Linked DNA regions of Homo sapiens: all the other regions are reported to be linked to region 1. Evidence: microRNA targets listed by miRTarBase, many of them from high-throughput screens and not tested one by one. Region 1 holds a microRNA gene; each other region holds the end of a gene's coding sequence.
What was found. Region 1 holds the annotated microRNA hsa-miR-5580-5p (UGCUGGCUCAUUUCAUAUGUGU, at 977-998, shown strand). A microRNA usually pairs through its seed, bases 2 to 8, with sites in the 3' UTR of a target mRNA and lowers its output. Matches are read on the target gene's strand: a 7mer-m8 pairs with bases 2 to 8, a 7mer-A1 pairs with bases 2 to 7 and ends in A, and an 8mer does both.

Region 1 (3,344 bases):
AAGGAGTGTAGGTCAGATTAAAGACTTCATTTCAGGCCCCTTGTACATCTTCTGTTTCACTCACCTGTTGAGGTGTATCACAGCTGAGCGTGATGAGGTCTCAACCCTAGAAAAATGATACCCACCTCTGCTTTCATGATACCTCAGGGTATCTCCAGTTATTACAGGTACCAATGTGATATTTCCAAATCAAAACTAATTTGTACACTAACATCATAATGTGTGTGTGAAGGCATGTTTTTAAACTTATTTTTTTTTTCTCCAGGTAGGACTCTTTTGTTTTTTCTTTTGTCTTTTTTTTTTTTTGAAACAAGTTCTCTCTTTGTTGCCCCAGGCTGGTCTTGAACTCCTGGGCTCAAGCAATCTTCTCATTTCGGCCTCTTTGGGATTACAGGCATGCACTGCTATTTTGTCTTTTTTTTTTTTTTTTGTAACAAATAATGTACCCTACCTTCAAAAAGTTTGATGACTACTGTTTTAATATGCCACTTGATAGAATTTCCCATTGTTTCTTGACTTTTTCCCTTGTCCTCTTTTCCCAATGTGAAGGCCTTCATCAAGTTTAGGATCCCAACAGATTGGGCTGGGTGGGGGTTGACAATGGGGTCAGATACTAAAGGGTCAGAATTTCTAAGCAGGCACTGTGAAGGTGTCCCACTATTATACAGAAATCTCGAGTCAAATGTCAACTCTCCTTTTCGCTCTGTACTGCCTCCCTCACACCCTCTTCCCTGGACTTGGGCAGAAAGAGGTAGATCTGATGTTCTGTGCTAGGGTTTCTTAAAGGGAAAAGCTCAATTTTTGGACAAAGTTAATAAAAAGGAGGATGCTAATGTACCCTCAGTTAAGGGCTCCCAGCAGGCAGATAAATGCCTTTCTGGAATGACGGGTGTAGGGATTAAGAGGAGCAGAGGAGAGGCCTTTGCTTTTTCTTACTTGCCACCAACAACTAAATTAAGCCTTGAATCTTGGTCTGTGCTGGCTCATTTCATATGTGTGCTGAGAAAATTCACACATATGAAGTGAGCCAGCACAGACCAAGATCCCTTTGGATCCCTTTGGAGCAGAAACATTTAGTGTCTTTGTATGTTCTCTGTGGGGAAGGCTGATAGCGCATTTCTCCATCATGAAGGTGTAGATATGAGCGGTAGTATTGCTGTTGCTGGTGGTGTGTGCACCCAAAGAATGTGTGTGGTGCACACTCCTGGCGTTTGCATTTTTCTAGGTGGGGTGTGCACCCTTGCATTCTTGTACACACTTTCTTACATACGCTCCTGGGAGTGGAGTGGGTGAAGCAGGATTCATTTTTGTTTTTAATTACTGAAGTCCTACACTCCTCCAAAAGGAGCAGCTTAGTGGAAACCAATAAAAATTGAAGCGGGGTGGTTGCCAAAACCCCAGCTCCCCGGAGAGCGCAGGTGGAGAGAAGACATCAGAGCCCCAGGCAAAGGCAGCAAGACTACACAGTTCCTCCAAAACTCCCCGCAAAAAGGGATCCTTCCCCCACCCCTCCAACCCCCCAGGTCGCTGCCCCTTTGATTAATGGTATGGAGCTCAAATAAATCATTTAGGGAAGCCCCTTATAGATTGCCCTCAGGCAGCCTCATTTTGTTTTGCCCAATTTCTAGCAACTTTCTGAAACGTCGATGTCATTGAAAAGGAACCAGTAGATCTCCAGTACTTGAACAAATTATCCTAGGGCCAGTACTGAGCCCTGTGGCTGTCCAGTTCTAGCAACCAGCCCCTTCCTCCATCCTCCCCGCTCCTACTGGCTTATTTTCAGGAATGGATAATGTTGTTTATTTGTTCAGCCAAATATTTGGTCTGGGGAATTTACCGTGAAATTCTGTGAATTGCATATACCTAGTTAACAAAATAGTCCTAATGCCACAAATGTTAGCATGGAAAACAAAGAGCTATGGCCAGCGTTAACTCTTTAAATTCTGTTTGAAAGCTTAGTCCTGAGACCCGGGGAGATTAAAAAAAAAATAAAAAAAATTGGATGTGTGTGATTTAGGTTTCGGCATTTACTATTTTTGCCTAATATTCAGTTCAGTACCTGACGGAAGTCGTAGGGTGATTCTCGGCGTTGCTTTTGGATCAAGCCTACCATTTCACCCCATTCATGTTTTTTTTTTTTTTTTTTCTCCAGAGTAATGTTCCTATTACTGAAAGAAAGATGGGGAGGGAAGCTCGCCCTTGAGGAGTTCGGCAAAGTCGTAACCACATCAGAGGAGCTGCTTGGTCGATCCCTACCCAACCCTTAAACTGGAACCGGCTTCCTAGGAGCTTAAAAAAAAAAAAAAAAGGTTGGGGGGGTGTGGAGTGGGACGCATCAAACATTCCCCTGCTTTCGTTGCATAATTCGCCCAGAACCTGCCAGGTGACCTGCTGACTTTGTTTTCTGTCTTGACCGTGCTTCGTTCCACACCCCCCTCGCCGCCGGGCAGCGCCACACTGAGAGGGCTCGGCGCGTCCGCGGCGCGGGCAGACCCCAGTAGTCACCCGGCCTTGGACTGGCGTCAAGATCCAGCCCCGCCGACCCCGCCTCCCGCCCGCTCTGGAGCTCCCAGGCCCGGCGGCGGCGGGGGCACCAGGGGGCGTCCTCCCTGCGGGGGACCAGGGGGACCGTGCACCTGGCGACGGCCCGCGGGAGCCGCGCGGCAGGCGGCCACCCCTCCCCATCCCCGCCGACCGCGGACTGCGGGTCCCCCAGCCCGGGCCCGAGAGCCGGCCCGCTCATCCGCCCTCGGGGACCCAGGCCTCAGGTGAAGCTCTGCAGACACAGACGGATCTGATTAGCGCTCGCTGGTCCTTGGGGCGGTCGCTCTGCAGATTTCATGCGAAATGGGGTCAAAAGGCCGCGCAGAAGCGTGGAGTCTGCAGGGGAAGGCTCCCCGGGGTGGAGGGGCTTAAGAGGGGTCGAGACCTTTAGGGGTTTTCTGTAGGGGGCAGAGAGCGGGAATTAGGGAGCGAGGCTCTCCTGCCTCCGAGCTCACAGTGGGCCTGCATATGGGGGTGACTCAATGGGAGCGGGGACGTGGGCGAGTGGGAAACAGGCCCGCTGGGTGAGGGTCGGACCTGCAGACTGGCCCTGAAGGCTGAGCCGCTGTCTTGGGCCCCTTGGGGACACGGAGAGCCCTGGGTCCCAGCTGAACTGCAGCCAGGGCCCCGCTCCCCAACAGTCGGGGGACGGAGGTGAACGGGAGAGGCCACGGGTGTGCAAGAGTGGAGCTGGACGATTGCTTTCAGAAATGAGATGCCAAGCCATGATACATAATGACAGCACCTCAGCTGACCTCCGCAGGGCCTCTGGACCGGGGACTCACCGTGCCCGCCCCCAC
Region 2 (3,344 bases), not on the chromosome of region 1:
GCGCCCCAGCTTGTCCCAACATCGGCGCCATCAGAGCTGGAGCACCTTCAAATCTATGACACTGGGCTCGCTGCCCCCCAAGCCCCGAGAACGGCTGACTCTGCACCGGGCAGCAGCCTGGGAGCCCACAGAACCACCGGATGGTGACTTCCAGACAGAGGTGTGAGTGCCACGCTGGACTGCCCACTGCATATAAATATATATATCTCTCTATTTTCACACTCCACTTTGGAACTACCCAGGAGCCAGCGCCCTCTCCCCTCTCCCGAGGGCTGGGCAGGGAGGCGCCGTGGACTCAGCCAGGCTGGGGGAGCCGGACATGGCTTGGCCTGGGGTCCCAGGGCCCTTCCTTGTTTCTCAGAGGCCCCTCAGCCACTGGAACCCCATCTTCAGCCCAGCCTGTCCGTCCCTGTCCCGGGCTGGGGAGGGGGGAGGGGAACTTTGTTGGGAATAAACTTCACTCTGTGGATTTTGCTGCTGAGCTGTTTGCTTCCCTCAGGTAAAGGCCCAGCTCTGGGACCCCGACTTTGTTTCTGTCTCCTGGGTTGAACTCACTTGATCTCATCAGATGATGTGATGGGGTCAGTCCAGCCCTGCCTGGGAGGGGGCGGCCTAGGCTCTGACCCCATCTTTGTCCCTGACTCTCTGGGTGATTCATCCTTTCCCCGATCTGGGCTGTGGGAAGCAGATTGGGAGTGTGGGAGGGGACCTCTTATGGCTGGCTTTTCCTGGTGGCTGTGATGGTCGTGGCTGCCATTCACTGGGGCACAGAGGCCAGACTTCCTGGGCTAGAGCCAAGACAGAGCTTAGTGACCTTGGTTTCACATCTGTGAAATGGGGATGGTAACAGTGCCCACCTCACAGGGTTGTTACAGGGATGAAACAAATTCCTATTTGTAAAGTGTTCAGCAAATACCTGGGACAGGATAAGCTCTTGAAGGGTTAGCTGTGACCATGTGGCACCAGTCTCATGCAGTGCTCTAAGCTAGGAGCTTCACACACATATCCCCTGGCCCCTCACAACAACCCTGTTGGAAGGTTTTAGGTTGCCCATTTTGTGGATAGGAAAATGAGGCCAGAGATGGGCAGTGCCCGGCTCAAGGCCACAGTCAGAGGCAGAGCTGGGACTTCAAACCCACGCTTGATGGAGGTGGGGCTTCAGCTCAGCTTCCTGGAACTTGACCATGGCTGCAGGGGAGCCGCAGATGCTGGGTTGTGGTGGAGATGCAGGTGTTGGACCGGGCCAGGGCTGGGGTGGGGTGTGGGAGCCAGGCTGGCTTGGTGCCAGGGGCTGGAGGCTTGTACTGAGTTGCATTCATTACATGCCTGAGTGAGCGGATCCTTGCTCAGTTTTCAGGCCCCCAGAAAGAGGGGGCACAGGATTACATCTGGAAACATATTCTGGAGTCAGGCAGCAGCTGGAGCAGAGGCACGGTTAGCAGGGTCACAGGTCCTTCTTGCCTGGTCATTTAGCAACATGGGCACCTCTGGGCCCCTTCCCAGGGACTCGGAGACACAGACAGGTCCCTGGAGAGCTGAGGGAGGGTTAGGTGCTGCAGCAGCCTGGGTGGGAGTGACAGAAGTGACTGGCTGCTGGGGTAGGGGGTATCACAGATAATGGCCTGCCCAGGGGTGCTGGAGGAGGGGCGGAGGCCTCTTCAGAGTTTTGCAGGCCTTGATGGCACAGGCTTGCTCTGGTCTCATTCCAATCCTGCCTGCTGTGAGACCTGGTCAGAGGAGCCGTGCGGGCAGAGTCCACTCAGGACTGTGCTTCTAGACCCTTGGAGCTCCTGCGACTCACTCCTCCGCCTCCCTCCCTTCGGGCAGCCCCAGCACTTAAGTGTACACAGAGTTCACTCAAGCACTACCTCATTTGATTCTTCAAGGTAGGTATTGTGACTGCCCCATTTTGGAGATGAGTAAATCGAGGCTTGGAGAGGGGACATGACTTTCCCAAGCTCCCACAGCTCAGCTTGTGACTGGGACTTGTGGCTGGGAGTGGCAGAATCCGATACCAGCCAGCTTAGGCACCTGGGAGCTTTGTTCACCCAGGAGCGCGCTGCCGCAAGGACAGCAGTGGGCAAGTGCGGCTGGCCTTCGTGATGGGACCCGGGATCAGGAGTGCCACCGCATGTTTCATCCTCTCCTGGCATTCTCTCGAATGTGTGTCGGCTTCATTCTTTAAGGCCTCTTCCCCCTGGGCCTGCCAGGCTTCCTCCTCCCAGCTCGATCACTCAGCATTGCCCCTAGAGGGGAAGAAACTTTCTCTCTTGAATTCCAATTAGAAAACCCCCAAGGAAGGAAGAGCTCTGGCTGGCCCCAGGAAGGAGGCTGGGGCACTGTGATTGGCAGTCCCATCAGGAACCATGGGGGAGAGGGAGAGGGAGGAGAGGGAGCAGGTCTCTGAGAAAGGGGGGCCTGTTCCTAAAAGGGGGTTTGCACAAACAAAGCCCGACCATGTACCAGCAGATCCTACTCCACATTCCTTCCTCTGACCATCACCTAAAGGCCCTCTTAATGCCTTGTCCTGTGCTCGCACCTCCCTCCTTCCTGGTCTTAGGCTCCGCTGGTCACCACCTCTGGGGCCCTCTGGGGCTGAGGTGTGATGTGCACGTCCCTGCCCTCCTGTCCATTCTTGCTTTGCATCTGGTTGAAGAGGAAGTTTAGTATTTACCTTGTTGATTCTGCTCAAACACAAACCACAGCTACCTGCAGAGGCCTCTGCTGGCTTTGAGACCAGCCACTTAGCTTTCCTGGGGTGGGGGCTTTGTCCCTCCCTTGCCCTCAGTCCCTGCTCCCCCAGGCACTGACTTGCTGCGTGACCTTGGACAGGCCACTGGACCCTGTCTGACATGGGTTTCCCTATCTGTAAAATGAGTTGGCTCGATCTCCCTTCCATTTGAGCTAATATCTAACAACCTGTCATTTCTTTCCTGGACTCAAATTTCTCACATCATTGCCCTCATTTTCTCTGCCTCCAGTCTCCAGCCCTTCATCCACATGGCCCAAGTGATCTTTCCAAAATGCAGATCTGGCCAGGCCACTGCTCAGATGCCTTCTGTGGATCCTGGAATTAGCCTAGAGTTCAAGGCCCTTGGTGATGTGGCCCTTGCCTCCCTCCTCTGGCCCATCTCTCTGACCTCCATGCCTGTGCATGCACCACTCCTTCTGCCTGAAACTCCCTCCTCCTCACAGAGGGGAAACTCTCCTTCAGCCTTCCAGACCCAGCCCAAGTAGCCCCCTGTGTGATGCTGTCCCTGAACTCCCTGGCCCAGCAGTCAGCACTCGCTGGGCCCCCACAGGCCTTGGCATGCACTGTCACTACTGCACTGATCACACAGAAC
Region 3 (3,000 bases), not on the chromosome of region 1:
TCAGGAAATATCACAGAGTTGAGCAAACAAATGAGCACATGCACAGTTAAATATAACAGATCTCATCTAGTACAGCAATACTGAGCCACATCTCTAAGGTGCAGGGAGGTGTGGGGACTTCGCATGGTTCCCTGCTGTACCTAGGGCTTAGAATAAGGCCTAGGACAAACATTTGCTGAATAAATGAATGCATAAAGGAATGAGTCACTTGCACAGCCCAGCACCTGACTTACAGTCCCTAACATCCCTCCTTAAATGGAAGTGGGAATATATCACCCAGGTAAGAGTACAGAACCCTTGGTCATGACCTGAGGCAGCTCTGAAGGTAGATCCAGGCATCAGAGACCAGAGCCTCAGGAACACCCATTTGGAGGTGCCAGGGACCTCATGAGGTTCACAGGTGACTTTTCATACCACTGTCAGAAGCCCAGCTACGCCCAGCTACGCCCAGCCAGGAAATGGCAGGCATCCCACCCAGGGGAGGCTGAGGACCAGATGACTTTGGCACTGCCCAGGATAGCCAAGTGAGGCTCCAAATCTTTCCCTTAAACACAGCCTGGAGTTGCCTGGGGCCTGCCATGAATACTATACTTCGGGTGGTGCTAGGGCAGGGCCTCACACCATAGATACTGAATACCCTGAGCCTTTGGGACAGGAGAGGTCTCTTAGGATGGCAGTGGCTCTCCATCTGATGAGCACACTGCCAACTTCATTGCCATCCTAATATTGATGCCCAGTCCTTCCTACTTACCTTCCACTTGCCACTCAGCTGTGCACCAGCGTGAAGTGTTCCAGACCAACCTTTGCTGAATAGGAACCTAAATTAGTGTAAGGTTCATGGGGAAAGCTCTCCTGTAGAGCCACGCTTGGGTGTGCGGGGGAAACGGGTAAAGGTAGCCATCAATACAGTCTGCTTCTAATCGCTGAGGGGACACTGACCCTCACCCACTATGCCCAGCATCTAGAACAGCAAAGTACAATGAGTGTTCAAGAAAGAGATCCCAAAGCCTAGCCCAGGAGCATTGGTGACAGTTTCCAAATATTACCCAGGGGTAATATTTCCTTTCAGAGTGCCCAGCGCAGCCCCAGAGAGTCCTGTGTTACCTCAAGTGCAAGTCCCGCCAGCAGTTTAGGGAAAATGAACCCCCTACACCAATCCCTGTGTGTGAGGTTTTAGAAGCTTCCACGGCAAAGAAGAGAGGAAACAATGAGCTTTATAAAGAACAATATTTATTTCCATTTACAGCATCAAATACCATAAATAAAGCTAAACATTGTTTGTTTTGCTGTGTGCAAAATACAGGGTTCCGTGTGGCACTGTAAATGATTACCAAAGGTCACAGACATGCGTTGTGATGAGATGGGGAGGCTAGCTAAAGAGGAGGCTGAGAGGGGAGGAGGGCACTCTTTGGTTGACATTCTATAAAGGGAGGGAGACTCTGTAAGAGAAGATAAGACAAGAGCAACGACTTTGTACTGGCCAGGATCTGCACAAATACAGTGAGCGTGCAGCATGCAGGGCCAGGCAGGCAGGCCCGGGGGTCAGGGTGGTCTGGGCCACATGCAGGACAGACGCCCACCGCAGCCTGAGACCGCGAGTGTTGCCTAGGACAGCTCCACGGTGCTTGGTGTGTTGTTTCTCGTTAAGAGTGTGTTGGTGATTATCCTGCTGCCCCAGGTACAAGAGTCAGCAGAAATGTGTGCTTTAAGCAGAGTCACAGGGGCCTGGGGCTGAACTGAGTCATTTCTCAAAGATATCCCTGCCTGGGATGATGATGGCTCTAATTGAAGCTCTGGCATCATCTGGGGCTTTATGAGCCAAGGGAGATAAGAAGAGCCACAGCAAAACCCTTGGGTCTACAGTGCAGGCTGCAACCAAGGCAGCATTTGCTAGAATATTTGTGATTATGTGTTCAACCTACAGAGCATGTGTCAAGCTTGGGATGAGGCCTGAGAGTAATTAAGTTTTTTAAATCCCTCCAAATAATCACCTATGGTTTTGATAAATGACATTAACAATCTTTACATTAGAGCCAATTTAAGAAGGCGCTGGTATGTATGAGCTTTTTGAGGCTGCTCAAAAAGTGTTCTTTTCAAAGGTGACAGAGGCCCCCTCATGGTATTGTTTCATGATCAAGGTCGACCCTCCCAAGAAAGTAGGTAGCTTCGCAGACGCAACTGGAGAAGCATGCACGCAGGCAGACCCAAGGGAGAGAGGAGAGGCGGGGCATGCACTTGGGGTAGACCAGGCTGCCAGCTCCATGGGAAATGAACACAGGCATGGGTCTCAAGCTGAACACCCCCCGCCATGCTGTTAGCCAACCATGCCACCAAATGAGTCCATCAGTATGCAAGACACTCACAGTTAGTGCAACCAGTACTGCTGGCGGAGAGGACGGGGTGCGGAAAGCGGGTTGGGGGTTAGTACCACTCTTTGAAAATTGGCAAGAAAACCAGTCACCTTAGAGCAGAAGTGTGTCAGCCAAGAAGTGGGTGTAGCACTGGAAGGCTGAAATGAACTGATGGCCATGGCGTAAGATTGGAAAGAGAGAGAAAGATAGAAAAGAGAGCTTAGTGTGGGGAAAAAAGGAAATGATTAACATCACGAGAAGGCACCGGAGTTGAAAATAAGGCCACGATTGAAAGAGGGAAACTTCCTCTGAAAGAGTCGCTGTTTGCTTAGGAGAGATGAACCTTTCTGGTTGTGACCAGCTACTTGTTTACGAGAGTGGATGCACACAGTTTGCATCTTGCTCCCTGATATCCTCTCTGCCCCCATTTTACTCTAGCGTCTCCCATTCATTCTTGAATATGTTGCGGAGGCCTAGAGGCATTCATCCTCGGGGGTCCACCCCTGGGTGTCGGTGCTGCCCACCAGAAAGGTTCAACATCTCAGAGCGTACAAACATCTCAGATTTCTGACAGGCACGCCCTGTCTCGCCACAGTAATTCAAACCAGTCTCCTTATGGCTGTACACGACAGTCAGAGATTCCGACTCG

Region 2: miRTarBase lists ADGRB2 as a target of hsa-miR-5580-5p. Seed matches in the 3' UTR shown: 7mer-m8 at 244-250.
Region 3: the mRNA of MICAL2 is a reported target of hsa-miR-5580-5p. The part of its 3' UTR that is shown has no 7-base or 8-base seed match.

What each region holds. Positions count from the first base shown.
Region 1 is chr14:53,946,117-53,949,460 of GRCh38, reverse strand. MIR5580 (microRNA 5580) reads left to right here and starts at 977; the gene lies at 977-1,034. RefSeq lists a silencer at 2,562-2,611 and enhancers at 2,582-3,112, 3,113-3,344.
Region 2 is chr1:31,724,242-31,727,585 of GRCh38, reverse strand. ADGRB2 (adhesion G protein-coupled receptor B2) reads left to right here. Exons shown (of 33, transcript NM_001364857.2): 33 at 1-469. The coding sequence ends at 166. Among named protein-coding and RNA genes, the nearest start is that of COL16A1, 22 kb to the right of the region's middle. RefSeq lists an enhancer at 3,277-3,344.
Region 3 is chr11:12,261,999-12,264,998 of GRCh38, reverse strand. MICAL2 (microtubule associated monooxygenase, calponin and LIM domain containing 2) reads right to left here. Exons shown (of 28, transcript NM_001282663.2): 27 at 2,462-2,519; 28 at 1,214-1,439. The coding sequence ends at 2,479. Among named protein-coding and RNA genes, the nearest start is that of MIR6124, 100 kb to the right of the region's middle.